Homo sapiens: one gene and its partner. The protein of the gene in region 1 interacts with the protein of each later gene in a biochemical or structural test. Each region holds a gene or a part of one and is shown in the gene's direction. Other genes may lie near its edges. The genes, in order: SLC22A12 and PDZK1.

Region 1 (10,314 bases):
AAATACAAAAATTAGCCGGGCGTGGTGATGCGCACCTGTAATCCCAGCTACTCCAGAGGCTGAGGCAGGAAAATCACTTGAACCTGGGAGGCGGAAGTTGCAGTGAGCTGAGATTGCTCACTGGTGACAGGGCAAGACTCCATCTCAAAAAAATAATAATAAAAAAAATTTGTAAACGCAGGTGGATGCTTCATCCTCTCTTCCCCTCTGTGGCTGGATGCACACGAGCACAGCCAGCGTGGATGCCAAGGACAGAGCTGCGAGATGGGGAGAGCCTGCGTTCCCAGACACCTCTTGGAGGAGAGCTGCCCACAGTCAGCAACAGCCATTTGGGACTTTACACAATCAATAAATAAACTTCTACTGTGTTTGAGCTGCTATACATTTCGAGGTTGGCTTGCCACAGCAGCCAGCGTTACTCTAATTAATGCGAACCACATCCCCATTTTCCTGCTTCTCCTTAGAGTGAAACTCCGTAGGTGAGCTGCCTGTCTTCACCGACTTCACTTCCCTGCCTCCAGCACTCTCACAGTCCTGTGCCTCTGTGCACTTCACCTCACCCCTCCACGGTAAACCCTCAAGCCAGGGCCCTCAGAGAAGTCCATGCTGCCAAATCCAGGGGCTAATTCTAGACCTTATCCCACCCCACCTCTCAGCAGGATGAGACTTTTTTGTTTCCTTGTTTTTGAGATGGAGTTTCACTCTTGTTGCCCAGGCTGGAGTGCAATGACGTGATCTCGGCTCACCACAACGTCTGCCTCCCAGGTCCAAGAAATTCTCCTGCCTCAGCCTCCTGAGTAGCTGGGATTACAGGCATGTGCCACCATGCCTGGCTAATTTTTTGTATTTTTAGTAGAGACAGGGTTTCACCATGTTGGCCAGGCTGGTCTCGAACTTCTGACCTCAGGTGATTCACCTGCCTCAGCCTCCCAAAGTGCTGGGATTACAGGCGTGAGCCACCGCGCCCGGCCAAGGATGTGACATTGCTGATTGACTCTGTCAGATACTTTTCACTCTGGCTTCCGGGGCATCCTGCTGTCCTGGTTTCCAGGCCTCACTGGTTTTGCCTTCACAGCTCTTTTGCTGGGTCATCCTCTTACTGACCTCTCAACATCAGAGACCAAAGGCTCCATCACAAACGTCATCTCTTTGCTATGAAAGCTTGCACCCTACGTGAGCTTATCCAGTCCTGTGACTTAAAATGCCTTTTATCCCCTAATTATTCCCAAGTCGCTCCATGATGCCACCACCTGGATGGCTAATAGACATGTCAATATCATCACACAAAAAAAGATTTATTTTCCCATCAAACTTGCTTCTCCCCGAGTGTTCTGCTTCTCTGTAAATGGCCCACCATCCACCCACCACCCACCTGATCATCAGTTTATCCTTTTTCTTCACCCTCGGCCCTGTATTTAGTCAAAGAAAAGCAATATGCCCCAAACCCAAGCATTTCTCTCCACCTGCCCTAATCCCCTAGCCCTGACCCTCATTGCTCACATGATCCACCCCAACAGCCTCCTGGGGGAACCCCTTCTTCTATATTTGTCCCATTTTCAGTCTGTTCTCCACACAGCAGCCAGGGAGATTTGTAAAAACATTAGTCAGATCATGCCACTTCTCTCCTCAAAACCCTATAAGGAAGTGTATGTTTTGGCCCCAAAACTGCTCTACTTTTCCCACTCACTTCTCCCCAACCATACTGGCCTCCTTCCTACTTCTTGAGCATAAAATCACATGCCCACCCCAGGGTCTTTGCATAATACTCTTCCCTCTGCCTGCAATATTCTTTCCCCAGTCAACTGTGTGTCTTGTCCCCTCATCTACTTGGGTCTCTTTCAATGCCACCTCCACAGAGAAGTCTTCCCTGACTGCCCCACCCAAAGTGGCAACATGATCCTTACTCTCTGCCCCTTATGCTATCTTGTTCTCTCCACAGCATGATTACTACTTGTCACTATATTCATTTATTTCTTGATGTGTTTCTCCTCTCTCATTGGCATGTCTTTCTACATATCAATGAGAACAGGGAATTATCTTGTTTGTTCACCGCTGCATCCCTGTGCCTAGAGCAGTGGCTGGTGCATTATCAACACTCAGCTCAACAAATGAATATTGATATTAAGAAGAAAGACACTCTTCTTTTTTTTTTTTTTTTTTTTTTGAGACAGAATCTTGCTCTGTCACCCAGGCTGGAGTGCAGTGGCGTGATCTTGGCTCCACTGCAACCTCCGCCTCATGGATTCAAGCAATTCTCCTGCCTCAGCAACCCTGGTAGCTGGGATTACAGGTGTGTGCCACCACCTCTGGCTAATTTTTGTATTTTTACTAGAGGCAGGGTTTCCCCATGTTGGCCAGGCTGGTCTCAAACTCCTGACCTCAAGTGATCCACTCGCCTCGGCCTCCCAAAGTGCTGGGATTCCGGCCGTGAGCCACCACGCCTGGCCCAAGAGAAACACTCGTAATATCCACTAAGAGATCAAGGAAATTATTCCACCTATGAAACAAGAAGTGGAAACTAGGAAACAAGAAGAAGCAGTTATAGGAAGAACCAAACACGGATTCTGAAATGGAAATTACACATTCTGAAATTAAAATGCTGGTGATTTGGGGCTGGGTGCAGTGGCTCATGCCTATAATCCCAGTACTTTGGGAGGCCGAGGTGGGCAGATCAGTTGAGGCCAGGAGTTCGAGACCAGCCTGGCCAACATGGTGAAACCCCATCGATATTAAAAATACAAAAATTAGCTGGGCATGGTGGCACATGCCTATAGACCCAGCTACTTAGGAGGCTGAGGCATGAGAATTGCTTGAACCTGGGCAGTGGAGACTGCAATGGGCCAAGATGGCGCCACTGCACTCCAGCCTGGGCAACAGAGCAAGACTCTGACTCAACTTAAAAAAAAAAAAGTGGAGAAAGCTGCATGAGAAGCATTTTTTTGGGAGAGCTCAGCTTTGGCCACACTAAGTGTGAGATGTTTATTAAGCACCTAAGATTAGGCAGTTGGATCAAAATCTAGCATTCCAAGAAGAGGTACAGGCTAAAGATGTGAATGGACCAGATGATAGAGAATATAGAGAAGACCAAGGAGTGAGCTCAGTGGCCTCCAATGTTAACAGTGTGTGGAGAAGAGGAAAACCCAACCAAGAAGATTGAGAACTAGTGAGTCCTGGAGGCCCAGGGAAGAAAGTATTCTCAGATGGAGATCAGAGACAGATGGCTCAAGTAAGATGAGGACTGAAAATGTCATTGAATCTAGCAGCATGGAGGTCATTGGTGACAGCAGAGTGATAGGGGCAAAACCTTGATGGGAATGAATCCAAAAACAAACAAAAAAATGGGAAGACAGAAACTGGAAATGAGTGTCAATAATACTTTCATAGAATTTTGTTGTAAATACAAGCAAAGGTGGGGCAGTCGCTTAAGAAGAAAGAGGGGCTCAAATGGAGGGGGAGTTTTTGGAAGGCTACAGAAAAAAATGGCATATTTGTACATTGGTGGAAATTATCCAGTAGCGAGGGAAAGACAAATGCCAAAGAGAGATGTGAGCAGGCAAAGGGGGGTGGGCTCTAGGCACACAGTGAGGGGTTGGCATGGATGAGAGAGAAACCAAACTGGGTGGAAGGAAGGCAGAATGTGGGGGCACCAAGGCAGGTGAGCTGGTGAGAGAATTAGACTGTTGGCTTCTGATGGCTTCTATTGTTTTAGTGAAATAAGAAAAAAGGTCATCTATTGAGAGAGAGGATAGAAGAGAAGGTGGTAGGTTTGAAGAGAGAAGATGGTATCAAATAACCCCTGGTTTGTGTGTTCAAATATAAGGGTAACAGAAATAAAACGTACAACTGACAGACCAAGACAGTAGAAGAATATAACAAGAAAACTTAATGGATTCAGTAGAAATTAGGAACAAGGAAACCAAGATTTAAAGGGAAAATGTGGTAAACAAGAAAACATACAGTAAGTCCAAACATGTCAATAATTACAATAAATGTGAACAGGTTAAAATCGCTAATTAAAAGGCAGAGGTATTTCTTTTGGATTTTACAAAAGGAAATGTAAAGCTTATTTGGCAGCTCAAGCTGATGAAGCTAAACATATCAGTTACTAAAACAAAGTCTGCACATATTTACACCAAACTGTAAACAGTAGTGTAACTCACTGGTTGATGAGTATATGAGGGATCTTTATTTTCATTTCAATATGTTCTGAATTTTTGAGGAAGTGTGTAAATTATTTCATAATTAGAAAATAAATGAAATTTTTAAAAAAATCATCCATGCACTTCAGCAAGTCTCCATGGAACCTTTATTTGTTGTCCAAATCAGTTCCAAAGAGCCTCTAAAGAAGGGTTCCAGACTACCAGGAGCTCACTGGAAATAAGACCAACTGGACCATAATAGAAGAATGCAGGTCATGGCTGGGTGCCGCAACTCACACCACTTTGGGAGGCCAAGGCAGGCAGATCACCTGAGGTCAGGAGTTTGAGAAGAATGCAGGACAGTGTAAAGATGAGATTCCACTGACAACTCTGAGCCCTAGTTGTAGGCAGGAATAAGTGAAGAGAGCCCGCTGGAGGAGGAGTATTTGGACTGTGCCCATTCCACACAGTATGTGGCCTAAGGGTGAGCCTGGAGACAGCATTCCAGGCTGGAGGTCCAACATAAGCAAGGGTGGGAACTGAGAAAGCATGTACAGGGCATGTGGTGGAAGCAGTGGATGACTCAAGGTGCAGAGCCCAGGGAGGCAAAGAAGTTGGCTTGGTAAGCCATGTGGAGGGGCAGCGGGAAGAGTCGGTGAAGCAAAAAGAAGCAGATGGGAGGGGCATTTATGCCTCAAATGGAGAGTTTTATGCCCAAAGCTCATAAGAGCAAACACCTGGGTTGCCATCACTGCTGCACTGCACATATACGCATGCACACATGTACACACATGCACTTGTGCAAACACATGTGCACACATACACAGACATGTGCACACACCCACATATACATACACTTCTTTTTTTTCTTTTCTTTTTTTTTTTTTTTTTGAGATAAGAGTCTTTCTCTGTCAACCAGGCTGGAGGGCAGTGGTGCAATCTCAGCTTGCTGCAACCTCTGCCTCCTGGGTTCAAGAGATTCTCCTGCCTCAGCCTCCCAAGTAGCTGGAATTACAGCTGTGCACCACGACCATGCTCAGCTAACTTTTGTATTTTTAGTAGAGATGGGTTTTTGCCATGTTGGCCAAGCTGGTCTTGAACTCTTGACCTCAAGTGATCCCCCCACCTCGGCCTCCCAAAGTGCTGGGATTACAGGCATGAGCCACCACGCCCGGCCATGCACACACACTTTTTAACTGCTTTGTGTTCTCTGGCCCTTTCGCCTACAGAATTAGCTATCGAGACCAAGGGGGTTCTCTTGGCCTCGGTCCAGCCTTTCCTGAACCCCACACCCTGCATCAGCACACACTGCTGTCCACTCACCTGCCCTAGTAAGTCACCACTAGCTGTTGTTGACTGGGAGCCCCTTGGCTTTTAAGCAGGATTTGACCCAAGGGCTCGCAGTGCGTGGTGGGTCCAGGGGCAGGAGTTGAGGCAGAAAGACAAGGGCAGGGACAGCTGTGGAGTGGGGGAGGTGGGAGAGAGAAATCCTTAGGAGGCAAAACTAGCCAGGCTTGGCCCCTGGTGGATTTGGGAGGCAGGGAGCAGGAGGCGTGAACCAAGACGCTGGGTTCCAGGCCAGACACTGTGACATGAGAGGCCATAGCTGAGGTGGGGCTCTGCAGGAGGCATAGATTTGGGGAGGGGACAGAGATCTCAGGGTGGCATTGGGCACACCGAACCTGGGGAGTCTGTGGGGTGTCTGTTGATGCTGGGAAGCTCCACCGAGGACTCAGGACAGGGTAACAGCAAAGCGGGCACAGGACGCCAACCACAGCAGGTGAGTGGAGGCAGGAGCCACGGGTGGGGCCAGGCCACACAGCCTGGGAGGCGCAGGGGCTGGGCAGCTGCCAGTGACCCAAGCCCACACAGAGACTTGCACAGCTGCCCCAGCCCCAAATTAGGGGGATCCCCTGGCCCACCTTCTCTTGGCTCAGCCACTCTGGGAGGTGGGCACACAGGGGCACCGAAGGGAGCAGGCAGCCCTGGCATCCCACAGCCGCCAGGAGAAAAACTTAGGCCTCCCCAAGACCTGGCACAGAGCAGGCCGGCCCTGGCCCCCAAGCAGAGGAGGCTGCACCTCCCTCGCGTCTGTGCCTGCCTCAACGCGGGTTAAACTTTGACCAAGGAAATGATTGCTAAACTCGATTCCATAAGTGTCACCGGTCACACTTTAATTCCAGTCTAAAATTAAAGTCTTCAGTCTCCACATTCCCTACTTTCCAAATTCAGCTTTCCCGGGAGGTCTGGAGCAGCTGCCTCTCTGGGGAGATGCTGGAGGTCTCGGAATCACCTCACGCGGCCTCAGGGCCCAGTTGGAGCCACCCCAAGTGACACCAGCAGGCAGATGACCAGAGAGCCTGAGCCTCCGGCCCCGAGTCTGTGAAGCCTAGCCGCTGGGCTGGAGAAGCCACTGTGGGCACCACCGTGGGGGAAACAGGCCCGTTGCCCTGGCCTCTTTGCCCTGGGCCAGCCTTTGTGAAGTGGGCCCCTCTTCTGGGCCCCTTGAGTAGGTTCCATGGCATTTTCTGAACTCCTGGACCTCGTGGGTGGCCTGGGCAGGTTCCAGGTTCTCCAGACGATGGCTCTGATGGTCTCCATCATGTGGCTGTGTACCCAGAGCATGCTGGAGAACTTCTCGGCCGCCGTGCCCAGCCACCGCTGCTGGGCACCCCTCCTGGACAACAGCACGGCTCAGGCCAGCATCCTAGGGAGCTTGAGTCCTGAGGCCCTCCTGGCTATTTCCATCCCGCCGGGCCCCAACCAGAGGCCCCACCAGTGCCGCCGCTTCCGCCAGCCACAGTGGCAGCTCTTGGACCCCAATGCCACGGCCACCAGCTGGAGCGAGGCCGACACGGAGCCGTGTGTGGATGGCTGGGTCTATGACCGCAGCATCTTCACCTCCACAATCGTGGCCAAGGTAGGGCCTCCCCCAGAGCCACTCGAGTCCCACCACCTTGGAGGTCAGTCATGGATCACGGTGGGTCAGACTCAAAGGTCCAGTCCTGGGAGGGACCCACCTCCCCAGGCCCCACTCACTCTCGAGCCTCTCAGCCCCTCGTCAGCCACACACAGGGAAGTGGGCGGCAGGGATCAGTCTACAAATGGGGCCAGCCCAGGCTCTTGGAGGTGCGGGGGGCACCTGGGCGGGCACCTCTAAATGCTGGCACCTGGACACTCACCGGCCTCACCCTGTCCTGGCCCTGCTGACCTGTCAGCCGTGACTCCAGGCAACTCAGCAGCAGGGGGACTCAGTGACAATTCACTGGATTCCCCGAGACCAAAGCACACAGAGTAAGGGATTACCCCAGGCTGCCTCCCAGATGGGGCGCCAGGCAAAGCCAGGCAAGCAGAGAGGGGCAGCTCATCCCAACAAGTGGGAAGAACCTCTTTATAAAGAACAGGAGGGAAGCAACCTCTGGGAGAGGGGTGAGGGTGTCAGCTTGGGTGGCTGCTTCCAAGTGGAGAGACAGGAGAGAGGGGCAGATGTGGCTAGAGACCCATTGGGCAATAGGGAGCCATGGAAGAGTTCAGGCAGAGGGTGGCAGGATATACTCCTCAAAAGGCCAAACTATGCCTGTGGGTGCCCTCACTGTTCCACAGGGTCTTGCTCTAAAACCCTAGAGGTCACCAGACCACCCACCGCACCCAGCTCCCTGGGGGCCCTCCCATGCGGTTCCTCTGCCTCTCTGCTGGGGCTCTCCCAACCTCCTGAGCTCAGCCTCCTCCTCTCCCATCAGTGGAACCTCGTGTGTGACTCTCATGCTCTGAAGCCCATGGCCCAGTCCATCTACCTGGCTGGGATTCTGGTGGGAGCTGCTGCGTGCGGCCCTGCCTCAGACAGGTGAGTACCCCCAGTCCAGGCAGGTCCCAGTTCCCCTCACAACCCCTGCTCTCCTAGGACCCTGGCCGACTGGCCCCAAACCAGCCTCACAAAACCAAGTCTAGAAAGCGCCCTACTTGCTGGGTGTGGGTCTCGGACCAGCCACCCTGCAGCCGTGCCAGGTAGGGAGGTCTGGAACCTTCTCTGAACCTCGAGTTCACCAACTTTACTCTGGGGGTTGTAGAGGATTTCTGCTCCCCAGCAAACATTCACTGCTAAAACTGGCTTGGCCATGCGCCTTCCTTCAGCAGCAACCTGAGTGCTCCTGGTGACTGGAGCCCATTCCCTTTGGCTCTGGCCTCGGGACTCTCCTTGTGCTCCGGAGGGTTCCGTAGGTGGAGAATGTAGGTTTCACCCAGGTGCCGCTTCAGTGTCCGCCTCAGCTCAGCGGGCAAGCATAGGGTGGGCTCTAGGTGTTCCAGAGCCCCGTGGCCTGTGCCGTGGCAAGCCACAGACCCTGCCTCTTCCTGGTTTGTGCCGCAGGTTTGGGCGCAGGCTGGTGCTAACCTGGAGCTACCTTCAGATGGCTGTGATGGGTACGGCAGCTGCCTTCGCCCCTGCCTTCCCCGTGTACTGCCTGTTCCGCTTCCTGTTGGCCTTTGCCGTGGCAGGCGTCATGATGAACACGGGCACTCTCCGTAGGTCTCTGACCTGGCGCCATGCAGGGGGGCTCCATGCAGGCTCCAGGGCTGAACCACTCGGTCTCCTTGCAGTGATGGAGTGGACGGCGGCACGGGCCCGACCCTTGGTGATGACCTTGAACTCTCTGGGCTTCAGCTTCGGCCATGGCCTGACAGCTGCAGTGGCCTACGGTGTGCGGGACTGGACACTGCTGCAGCTGGTGGTCTCGGTCCCCTTCTTCCTCTGCTTTTTGTACTCCTGGTGGGTGCTGTGCCCCACTCCCCTCCTCAGAGGAGATCCTGCCCACTCTCCACCCGGGGGAATGGGAGACTCTCCTTTCCCTGGGGGCTGGGGAGTGCTAGAGGCCAGGGGTGCATGGGCTGGAGGAAAGCCAGGAGCGTGGCAGAGTGTACCACCCACAAACCCAAGACACCCACTTCAACCAGGGCTTGGGTCCCCAGGGCGCCTCCCCTGCTCCTCTCAAGTGCTCCTTCTCCTACTTATTCTTCTCTTTTCCTCCCTCCTCCTCATCTCTTGGCCTATTCTCCTCTCCTGTCCCTGCCTGCCTTGGCATCTATGCTGCCAGGCCCATCTTCTGAGCCCCTCCTCTGTGTGTGCCAGGCATGGCAGCACTGAGCTAGGCTAGGGGAGCGAGTGGAAAGATACAACACATGCCCGCACACACAGCGCACAGCCGCAGTCTGCTTCATGGGCTGACAGAATCAATGCTTGTGTCTGTCTGCTGGAAGACAGGGACCAGGATCCACTCATCAGAGGGGAGTCCACAGTCCCCACAGAGGGCCGGCATGTGTGGGAGGTTAGGAAATGTCAGCACTGCCCTGAAACAAATCAGGCGTGGCCCTTGCCGAGCACCTGGCACATAGTAGGTGCTAAATAAATATTTGTTGAATGGATGAATTGTTAGGTAAGTAGAAATAGATAGATAGGTAGGTAGGTAGGTAGGTAGGTAGGTAGGTAGGTAGATAGATAGAGACAGATAAATAAATGGGTTGACAGATGTGTGGATTGGATGAGTGGATGGGTGAGTTGGTGGATAGATGGATTGGATTGTATAGATGAATTGAATGGATGGTTGAATGGATGGATAGATGGATGGATGGTTGGAATAGATGGATGGACGGATGGATGGATGGATGGATGGATGGATGGATGGATGGATGGACGGACAGACGGACGGACGGTTGGATGGATGGATGGATGGATGGATGAATGGATAGTTGGAATAAATGGATGGATGGATGAATGGATGGATGGATGGGTGGATGGACGGACGGATGGATGGACAGATGGAATGGATGGATGGATGGTTGGAATGGATGGATGGATGGAATGGATGGATGGATGGAATGGATGGATGGATTGTTGAATGGATGGTTGGATGGATGGATGGATGGATGGTTGGAATAGATGGATGGATGGATGGGTGGATGGATGGATGGATGGATGGATGGATGGATGGTTGGAATAGATGGATGGATGGATGGGTGGATGGATGGATGGATGGATGGATGGATAGATGGATAGATGGAAAGGATGGATGGATGGATGGATGGATGGATGGATGGATGGATGGTTGAATGGATGGTTGAATGGATGGTTGGATGGATGGATGGATGGATGGATGGACGGATGGATGGATGTTTGGAATAG
Region 2 (10,171 bases), on another chromosome or scaffold:
ATCTCGGCTCACAGCAACCTCTCTGCCTCCAGGTTCAAGCCATCCTCCCAACTAAGCCTCCCGAGTAGCTGGGACTAAAGATGTGTACCACCATGTATTTTGGCTGTTTGAACTGGGGAACAAAGCCTGCTGGATTTAATGGACTCCAACTTCAAATGATTGCTGCTAATGATATTCTAGAAATCCATAGGCCTTCATTTCTTCTGTGTCTATCCACCAGAGGGGTCTGATCTCTAGATTTTTTCAGGAGGCAGAAGATGAGGTGGGGTTAAAGAAGTAGGAAAGAGTATCCTTAAATACAAAGATCCTTCCTAATTAGGCCCTGTGTTCCAGAGTCCCAGGCATCCTTGTCATGGAGCAATGACAGAGTCTTGCGAAAGAGACATACCCCAGCTCTGAATTAGGGGACAGAGTAACACCAGGATGTGGACTAGACAGAACAAGGCCTGGAGGTGGACCAGAGCCCAGCTCCCTTGGCTCCTAGATGAATCATCTTTCTGCAAGATGGCAAAGGAAACAAATAGTTTTAGGTTCCCATGTAAGACCAGGCTTTTGAGGTTTAGGTCTGCTTTCCCCATTGGTGCAGCTGGGGGCGTTAAATATTTAATCAGTTTGGCCTGGGTACATGCAGATCGATGGCCATAGCATTAATCCATTAATGGCTGTGTGGTGGGGAGTACACAGTGGCAGAAGGCAGTTGGGGGCTTGCAGCAGTAGCTGTTTCCCCACCAGTATGGTAGCATTTCACTATTGGTATAAAGTGGCTCTAATTTTCTGGCTTCAACCAGACAAAAAAGAAACTGACCTTGAATGCTTGAGCCTTCAAAGCCATAGATGCAGATCTGAGCGATTACCATCTGGCTGTTTGAAAACTTCAAACAAAAAAGTCAACTTGAGATTCTGCCAAGAAACAGTGATTTGTGTTTCTTTGTATGTCAGGCTCACAGGTCTCCAGTGAGACATAGGAAAACCTTTGCCTCTTCCCCTCTCTCCAAACACAGGGCTGGTTCTCCTAGTGAGGAGGTTTCACTTTCTATCCTTGGCCTACAAACAAAGAGATTAAGAGTTTGTGGTTGACACTGCAGGGCGTGAGATTGTTGAGTCTTGGGTGTGAGTGCCTTAGAAATGAGCATTCATATGCTGATCACAAACAGCCTCATCTCTTGATGAAAACATAGTATCTGTTGGCCTTATTCTGATTATAAGGACATATTTTAAATTTTGTAGGATTTGAATGAGGTTCTCCAATAATTACTCCCAACTTTAAGAGGGCTTTGCATGTTTTGTTTGACATTGTTTTATTTTCTTCACAGCAAATATCATTATCTGAAATGATCCTATTCATTTATGTAATTACTGTCTGATCCTCCCAGTAAAGTACATTGAGACCTCGTCTTTCTTTTCTGATTTTTTTTCTTTTGGGGTCTTTTGGCCCTATGAAATGGAAAGGTGTAGGGATCTACAGGTGAGCTTGGACATAGATGTGAACTCAAGCTGAAACTGAACTGATGCTCGCAGGTTGGGATCAGCAGAAAGAGGAGTGAAAGGTGAGGGAGCTGGAATGGGCCACAAACAGGTGCCTGGATGTGACTCAACTCTGGTGATGCCATATTTTCTCCTTTCATCCCAGAGTGGTGTTTTCCTGGCAGCTGGTCATGGCTTTTGATAAGGCAGAGCTGCCTAGCTCTCCCAAGGTGCTGGTGTTGACCACTGGTGAGTGGCTTTGCTGTTTTCTTGCCTCAATGCTCGATGGGGAGTCTATTTGTTTGCTTCTTTCTTCGCTACTTAGTCACTCGTGCCACTGGTGGCGTGGGGCTTCAGACTTTGCGGAGACTGCAGGAGAGGCCTGGTATTGGGCAGCTGGGGGCTCTCTGTCTGATTTGTACTGTACGTCTCTGTGGGCATGAAGGTCAGGGATGGCTATCTTCAATCACCATGCCATGGCTTCTAGGGTGCCTGGAGCACTTTGTGGCCTATTCTTCACCCTCCCCCATATCCTGTGTGGTCATCCGTTCTTGTCCCTCCAGGAGGGAAGGGATAGGTGGTTTATTCTGATTTGTAGGTAGGGAACTGTGATGAGAGGAACTTGAGGGCTTGCCTTGCAGGTGGTGTGAAGAGCAGACTCCAGTGCTCTGTTGTGAGCCTTCTGCCTTCTGTATCAGCCTCTTGCTGTTCTGGCCCCTGTTCTTATTCTCCTATAAAAGAAAAAGCTTTCAGCCAGCAGGTGTCGGGGCACTGGCAGAAGTCTTACCCTTAATAATAACTGTGTGCCGGAGCCCTAGCTGTCGGTTTTACACTTGTCCTGTCTTCCTCCTATGGCTCAGGACCTTGCCCCTGCAATGGGGCAACAGGAGGGGCAGGATGAATGGAAATAGAAGCTGCTTCAGGCCAGGCATGGGGGCTCATTCTGTAATTCCAGCACTTTGGGAGCCTGAAGCATGAAGATCACTTGAGCCCAGGAGTTTGAGACCAGCCTGGGCAACAAAGCAAGACACTGTCTCTAAAAAAATTAGTTAGCAGGGCATAGTGATATGTGCCTGTAGCTCCAGCTATTCAGGAGGCTGAGGTGGGAGGATCGCCTAAGCCCAGGAATTCGAGGCTGCAGTGAGCTGCGATTGCGCCACTGCACTGCAGCCTGGGTGACAAAGCGTCTGGGAGGGAGAGCCCCAACCTAGCCACTGGAATCCCTTTTCTATCGAGCATCTCTTTTCTGCTGTGGCTAGAGACTTCAGGGGCCAGAACAGCCTTTTCTAGTGCATCTCCAACATATTGGACCAGCTCTAAGGCCTGGTGTCCTTTTTTTTTGAGGCAGAGTCTCACTCTATTGCCCAGGCTGGAGTGCAGCAGTGTGATCTCGGCTCACTGCAATCTCCACCTCCCAGGTTAAAGCAATTATCCTGCCTCAGCCTCCCGAATAGCTGGGACAACAGGTGGCTGCCACCACGCCTGGCTAATTTTTGTAATTTTAGTAGAGCTGGGGTTTCACCATATTGGCCAGGCTGGTCTCAAACTCCTGACCTTGTGATCTGCCCGCCTCGGCCTCCCAAAGTGCTGGGAATACAGGGGTGAGCCACTGTGCCTGCCTTTTTTAATGGTTTAAGCTCTTCCTTGTCCTGTCCTACCTCACCAAGCTTCTACTAATCCTTCAGTTCTTGGAAGTGTCATTCCTTCAGGAAATGTTCTTTGTTCTTCCCATCCCGCTCCCTATTCCCAAGACCCTTTGTTATTTTCCCCCTTATCACTGCATTCTTCCCCAGCATGACACTCACCACGTGTGGTTATAGGAATGTAATAATGTTCCCCAATAGAAGAGGCAAGGTATGGGTCCATCTTGTCTACAGATTTAACCTCGATTCCTTGAACTTGAAAAGCTCTTCAAATGTTTGAATGAGAGTGGGCTTGTCATAAATTTTTTGGGTCATGTATTTGGACTTAATTTCTTTAGGTCAGAGGACAAAGAGGAGTTTGGTTGGAGATACTGAAATGGAAGCATCTGTGTCCAGTACTCAGTAAAAAATACGTGGGTCTGAAACTCTAGTAAAAAGGTTGTCCTTGGGGAAACAGATTTGGAAATCATTAGCAAGTTCTGGAAGGTGTCCTCCTGTGCCCCCAGCATTACTACCCAAGCAGTCTAGATTTGGTGATTGGAAGAACAGAATTATAGGAGATGGAGGATGGGGTTCTCACTCCAATTAGATTCTCTTTTCCATGGTTTTATTAATTTATTTTTTTCATCACAGAAATGACCTCCACCTTCAACCCCCGAGAATGTAAACTGTCCAAGCAAGAAGGGCAAAACTATGGCTTCTTCCTGCGAATTGAGAAGGACACCGAGGGCCACCTGGTCCGGGTGGTTGAGAAGTGTAGCCCAGCAGAGAAGGCTGGCCTTCAAGATGGAGACAGAGTTCTTAGGATCAATGGTGTCTTTGTGGACAAAGAAGAACATATGCAGGTGAATGAGACATTTGGGGCTTTTCTTCCAGGATCTCTTCAGCCCCCACATCTTCTCTGCTGATTATAATTTTGGGGGTTGGTAGAGTTTGGTTCTTTCCTGGCTGCCACTGGCAAGGCAGGACACCTTTATTGCTGTACCTTGTGTTGGCCAATCAAGTCCCCTATGAGGAACCAAGAACTGTACACATTACTCTTGGATTTGAATAGCGTTAGGTCTAACATGAATTGCATGTTCACTATATACCAAAAATGGTGCTAGGTATTTTTTTTTTTTTTTTTTTTTTTGAGATGGAGTTTCGCTCTTTCACCCAGGCTAGAGTGCAGTGGTGCGATCTCGGTTCACTGCAAGCTCTACCTCCCGGGTTCATGCCATTCTCCTGCCTCAGCCTCCCAAGTAGCTGGGACTATAGGCACCCGCCACCACACCCAGCTTTTTTTTTTTTTTTGTATTTTTAGTAGAGATGGGGTTTCACCGTGTTAGCCAGGATGGTCTCGATCTCCTGACCTCGTGATCCGCCCGCTTCGGCCTCCCAAAGTGCAGTGATTACAGGCATGAGCCACCACGCTCGGCCAGCAATTTTATATTCATTATCTTGTTAAGTCCTCATCATGACCTCATAAGGTATATGTTACAATTTCACAGATTAGGAAGCTAAGTACAGATATCTTAGCTTGCTAACATGTTCCTGCTGAGGATATATGGGAGAGTCTGGCCTTACCTTATTCTGCCTGACTCCAAAAGCATGGTCTTTTCCTTACACTGTGCTGTCCCCATGCACACGGGAGGAATGGTTACAATCTAGGGCAGCGCTCCTCTCTAGAAAGGACCAGTCTTGTAAGAACCCTCTGGGCTGGGGTTGAACCACACTCTATATTCCAGCAGTGCCAGAAGCTCAGCCTAATCTGCACCTGGATCTCGGGAGGGCAGGGATGGAGGTGGCTGAGGAACTACCTGCTTCTACTTGGGTGTCAAGGGTCAACTAGCAGCATCTCCAGGGCCAGATATTGAGCCAGATGGTCAGCATTTCCCTCTGGCAGTTGGCAGAGGGTTATTAAAGTTACCTTTTTCTTCTTCCCTCCTAGGTTGTGGATCTGGTCAGAAAGAGTGGGAATTCAGTGACTTTACTAGTTCTGGATGGGGATTCCTATGAGAAAGCAGTGAAAACACGGGTGGACTTGAAAGAGTTGGGTCAAAGTCAGAAGGAGCAAGGTTTGAGTGATAATATACTTTCCCCTGTGATGAATGGAGGTGTGCAAACTTGGACCCAGCCCCGGCTCTGCTATCTCGTGAAGGAAGGAGGCAGCTATGGCTTCTCTCTGAAAACTGTCCAAGGTGAGAATTTTTTGGGGAGCAGGGGGAGGCAGGGGCAGGGCACAGACAACAGGCTTCCAGAACAAAGATGCTACTGGTTAATGACTTTTCTTCTTTGACTGACTTTTCAGTTGCTATAGATAGCTTGCAACAGCTTGCCTCCCTCCGTCTCTCACTCCCTCCCTGCCCTTTCCCTTGCCTTGCACAGTTGTGCAATGGGGGAGGGACACTGGACAGCAGTGGGGGTGGGGGGCACTGGGTACTCCTGTCCCTGAGTGTTTGTCAGGCTGGCACTTGAGGACTCTTTGAGGTCAGGGGGCCAGAGGGTTGATGCTTCTAGCCCTCTTAGGGTGAAAATGAAGGGCAGAATAAGGAATAAAAGGCAAGAAAAATGAGATTCTTCATAATAGCTATTTTTGAGTAAGATTGGTATCTTTTTTTTATCTGAGTGCCCAGATAGTCATTCATTTATTCAACAAATTCTTGAGCACCTGCTGATGTGCCAGGCACTGTTACCTTTGCTGAGAATACCGCAAAAATTTCCACCCTCCTGTAACATTTTGATAGTACCCTCAGCTGCGGCTCAGCCCCACCTGTTCTGAGGCGCATCTTTGAGCTCTGGCTAAGAGGTACATAGTGATTTGAGAAACCCTGACCATCAGGAAGCACCAGAAGTTCTATTTCTAGAATTTCAGAGGTGCAGACTAACCTGTGTTCAGTTGACCGTGGCTCTGGGGTATTGGTTGGAACCAGAGGAGCTGTGTTAGCTGGTCAATTCCTTCTTGAACACTGCCTCTGCCTATGTTCTTTCTGGGGCTGGAGAAGCACTGGTGGTAGGTCATGATTTGGCAAGTGATACAGCAGCAGACCAGTGGTAAATTTAAAATAGTTTCTAAGGCTTATTTAACCTGTACCAAGAGATGTAAACTCACGATAAGGGGTATTTCTCAGGTCTGTCAGTTATTAAACACAGTGGTGTGTATAGTCAAAGGAAGCTTGGCACGTCTTAGAAGCCTATTATCAGTAAAGTGGTAAAAAAAAGAAAATCATAATTCAGATTCTACTCATCTGGCTCATGTGCTAATGCACATGGTGAATGGTTTAGGTTAGCTTTATGAGGAAAATGGTCTCTTCATGACAAATATATAACAAGGTAGCAGGAGAAATGCTGAGTGTTTAAGGAAGCAGAGTTTAAGTTATTGTCATTCCTTACAAGTGATTTATGTAGTCATTAGCAAGCGATCCCTTGCCTAGGTTGACATACAAGAGTCCCCCCTTATCCTGTTTGGCTTTCCATAGTTTCAGTTACCTTACCTGCAGGCAACTGTGGTCTGAAAATATTAAATGGAAAATTCCATACATAATTTTTGCATTGTGAACCATTATGAGTAGTGTAATGAAATCTTGTGCTGTCCTGCCCCGTCTTGGACATGAATCCTCTGTTTGTCTAGCATCTCCACGTGGCATGTGCTTACCTGCCTGTTAGTCTTACTACTTACTACTCAGTTACCAGGTCAACTGTCACGGTATTAAAGTACTGTGTTCAAATAATCCTTATTTTGCTTAATAATGGCCCAGCACAGAAAGAAAAATATCACATATTCTCATATGTGGGAGCTAAAAAAGGTGAATCTCATGGAGGTAGAGAGTAGAATGAGAGATACCAGCAGCTGGGAAGGGTATGTGTGTGGGGTAGGGTGGGGATGAAGAGAGCTAGGTTAATGGGTACAAACCCACAGAGAGAAGGAATAAGTTCTAATGTTTGATAGCACAGTGGGGTGACTGTAGTTAACAACAATGTATTGTACATTTCAAAATAGCTGTAAGAAGATTTGAAATATTCTCAACACAAAGAAATGATAAATGTTCAAGGATGGATGTCCTAAATATTACACCCTGATTTGTTCATTATATGCTCTTGGTATCAAAATATGACACACACCCTATAAATATGTACAAATGTTATGTATCAATAAAAAATAATAGCTCAGGCCGGGCGCAGTGGCTCACGCCTGTAATCCCAGCACTTTGGGAGGCCGAGGCGGGCAGATCATGAGGTCAGGAGATCGAGACCATCCTGGCTAACACGGTGAAACCCTGTCTCTACTAAAAATACAAAAAATTAGCCGGGTGTGGTGGTGGGCGCCTGTAGTCCCAGCTACTCAGGAGGCTGAGGCAGGAGAATGGTGTGAACCCGGGAGGCGGAGGTTGCAGTGAGCTCAGATTGCGCCACTGCACTCCAGGCTGGGCGATAAAGCAAGACTCCGTCTCAAAAAAAAAAAAAAAAAAAGCCAAAAATGCAAGGATAGTGATGCTGGCAGTTCAGATATGACAAAGAGAAGCTGTAAAGTGGCCGGGCACAGTGGCTCATATCTGTAATCCTAGCGCTTTGAGAGTGCGAGGCGAGTGGATTACCTGAGGTCAGGAGTTCGAGACAAGCCTGGCCAACATGGCGAAACCCCATCTCTACTAAAAATACAAAAATTAGCCAGGCGCGGTGGCAGGCGCCTGTAGTCCCAGCTACTCGAGAGGCTGAGGCAGGAGAATCGCTTGAACCGGGGAGGCAGAGGTTGCTGTGAGCCAAGATTGCGGCCCTGCGTTCCAGCCTAGGTGACAGAGCGAGACTCCATCTGTTAAAAAAAAAAAAAAAAAGGCTGTAAAGTGCTTCTATTAAGTGAAAAGTTCTCGATTTAATAAGGAAAGAAAAAATACTGTATGCTGAGGTTGCTAAGATTAGCTCAGTTATTGTTAATCTCTTACTGTGCCTAATTTATAAGTTAAACTCTATTGTAGGTATGTAAGCACAGGAAAAAACATATAGGGTTCGGTATACTATCTTAAAGTTTCAGGCCTCCACTGGGGGTCTTGGAATGTATCCCCCATGGTTAAGGGGGAACTGCTCTATTAATATCTTTGAAGAATTGACAGCATTTCTATAAGTAGCACCTAAATCTCACCACCTAAATGCATTCGGGTTCTTCCCTCCCTCCTGTGCCTGTCCTTGTTAGCCTACATTGGTGAGATGACTCCACAGCATACGATGGCTAATATAATAGTACAAACTGAAGAGGAGAGAATGGTAAAGATGCTTTCTGATTCTACAAATGCAAAGAAAGGGCGTATGACACAATAATGCAGTGTGGGCATGTTTTAGCGCTTTCTGGTTCAAGGGGCCAAGGCCACCCAAGATTCCATCTTTGCATTTAGCTGACCTCAGAAATTCTATTCAAATCAACAAATACCCACTGAGTAAAGGCTGTGTCAAGTTCAGTGCCAGGACCTATAACTGTGATTTTAGATCAGAAGCCAAAGGCCGAGTTAGCTCTAAAATCGGAAGTTTGTTTCACATTATTGGGAGAAAAGTCTTTACCATTGGATTTCGAGTTTTTCTTTGCAATGGAGTGTTCTGTGAAAGGGTGGTGTATGCAAAGCAGTCCCTCAAAGGCCAAAGGAGCTGAGAAACCAAAGGACAAGGCAGGCAAATCCAGTTTGTTGGTACATTGGAATTTATCAGGGGAACTTACGAACAGAAGCATGGTCTTGGACAGCCACAAAACATGTAGATCTCTGTGTTACTCCCCAGACCCAAGGCTGATATACCATAGGGAAAGGGTATATGTGCTCCAGCAAGACAATCGAAGGCAGCCCTCCGCAATAGCCAAGAATGCTATAGTGCATCATAGCCTATAATTTGCGTGATAACATTAAGGTTGACATGTTCTTAGACTAGGGACAGTAAATGAAGTAGAAATCGGGAGGCAATCACAGGACTGGGGCTAATCAGAAGTCAACATCACAGATTACCATCCAAGAGGGAGTCACTTGTGTCTCCACATGGAGTTTACCCCTACTCTCTTCCAGGTAAAAAGGGGGTGTACATGACTGATATTACACCTCAAGGTGTGGCTATGAGAGCTGGAGTTCTGGCTGATGATCACTTGATTGAAGTGAATGGAGAGAATGTAGAGGATGCCAGCCATGAGGAAGTGGTTGAAAAGGTATGCCCCAAAGGGTACTTTTCTTACCCTATCTTCCACTCTATTCTCATTGGAGGTGACAGGAAGACAGGGGTGGTAGGGGACAGCATGAGTTTATGATGGAAAAAATATCCAGTTGAGTTGCCCCTTCATATTAAGGGTGAACAGACTCACACTAGTGGTATAAGCAGTGTTAATATAGGGTTTTGGAATAAAGCCTTCCCTAGTTTCACATGAGGTCTACAAAATTATTAACTTTACCTTTTGGATCTTGTTTGTATCTGATTGGGAGCCCCCTCTGAACTGTTTGATTGAGACAGGGTCTCACTCTGTTACCCAGGCTGGAGTGTAGTGGCACAATCTCGGCTCATTGCAGTCTCGGCCTCCTGGGCTCAGATGATTCTTCTACCTCAGCTTCCTGAGTAGCTGGGACTACAGGTGTGCACCACCGCACCTGGCTAATTTTTATGTGTGTGTGTGTGTGTGTGTGTGTGTGTGTGTGTGTGTGTGTTTTGTAGAGATAGGGTCTCACTATGTTGGCCAGGCTGGTCTTGAACTCCTGAGCTCAAGTGATCTGCCCGCCTTGGCCTCCCAAAGTGCTGGGATTATGGGCGTGTGCCACTGCGCCCTCTGAATTTACAATAAGTTCACTGTTGAGCCGTTAATACTGAAATGCTTTAATAGGAAGTGGGAGATAACCGAGATTTTCCTTTGAGGTCATATGGAACCTTAAAAATTGACCAACCTTCTCTTTGTAGAATGATTTTTTGACGTGGACCCTTACTTTCTTTTCTTTTCCAAACTCCCTTTCTAGCTTTTATCTAGGTACCTTTATGGGTTTTCTGAATTCCAGCTCCTACTTGGGCTCAGTTAGCACCTATGTGGGTAGGTCATACTTAAATAAGGGAAAACAACTATAGAAGTGGAG

The links.
Region 2: the proteins of SLC22A12 (region 1) and PDZK1 form a complex in vitro, tested with the Homo sapiens proteins (2 studies listed by BioGRID and IntAct, with this or other methods).

What each region holds. Positions count from the first base shown.
Region 1 is NC_000011.10:64,584,900-64,595,213, forward strand, and holds the start of SLC22A12 (solute carrier family 22 member 12), read left to right. Parts: upstream 1-6,320; 5' UTR 6,321-6,657; coding exon 6,658-7,059; intron 7,060-7,879; coding exon 7,880-7,983; intron 7,984-8,505; coding exon 8,506-8,660; coding exon of another isoform or gene 8,661-8,735; coding exon 8,736-8,904; intron 8,905-10,314. UniProt on the Homo sapiens protein: Electroneutral antiporter that translocates urate across the apical membrane of proximal tubular cells in exchange for monovalent organic or inorganic anions. Involved in renal reabsorption of urate and helps maintaining blood levels of uric acid.
Region 2 is NC_000001.11:145,681,593-145,691,763, reverse strand, and holds part of PDZK1 (Na(+)/H(+) exchange regulatory cofactor NHE-RF3), read left to right. Parts: exon of another isoform or gene 1-1,655; coding exon of another isoform or gene 1,656-1,713; intron 1,714-3,740; coding exon of another isoform or gene 3,741-3,742; coding exon 3,743-3,952; intron 3,953-5,037; coding exon 5,038-5,287; intron 5,288-9,127; coding exon 9,128-9,264; intron 9,265-10,171. UniProt on the Homo sapiens protein: A scaffold protein that connects plasma membrane proteins and regulatory components, regulating their surface expression in epithelial cells apical domains.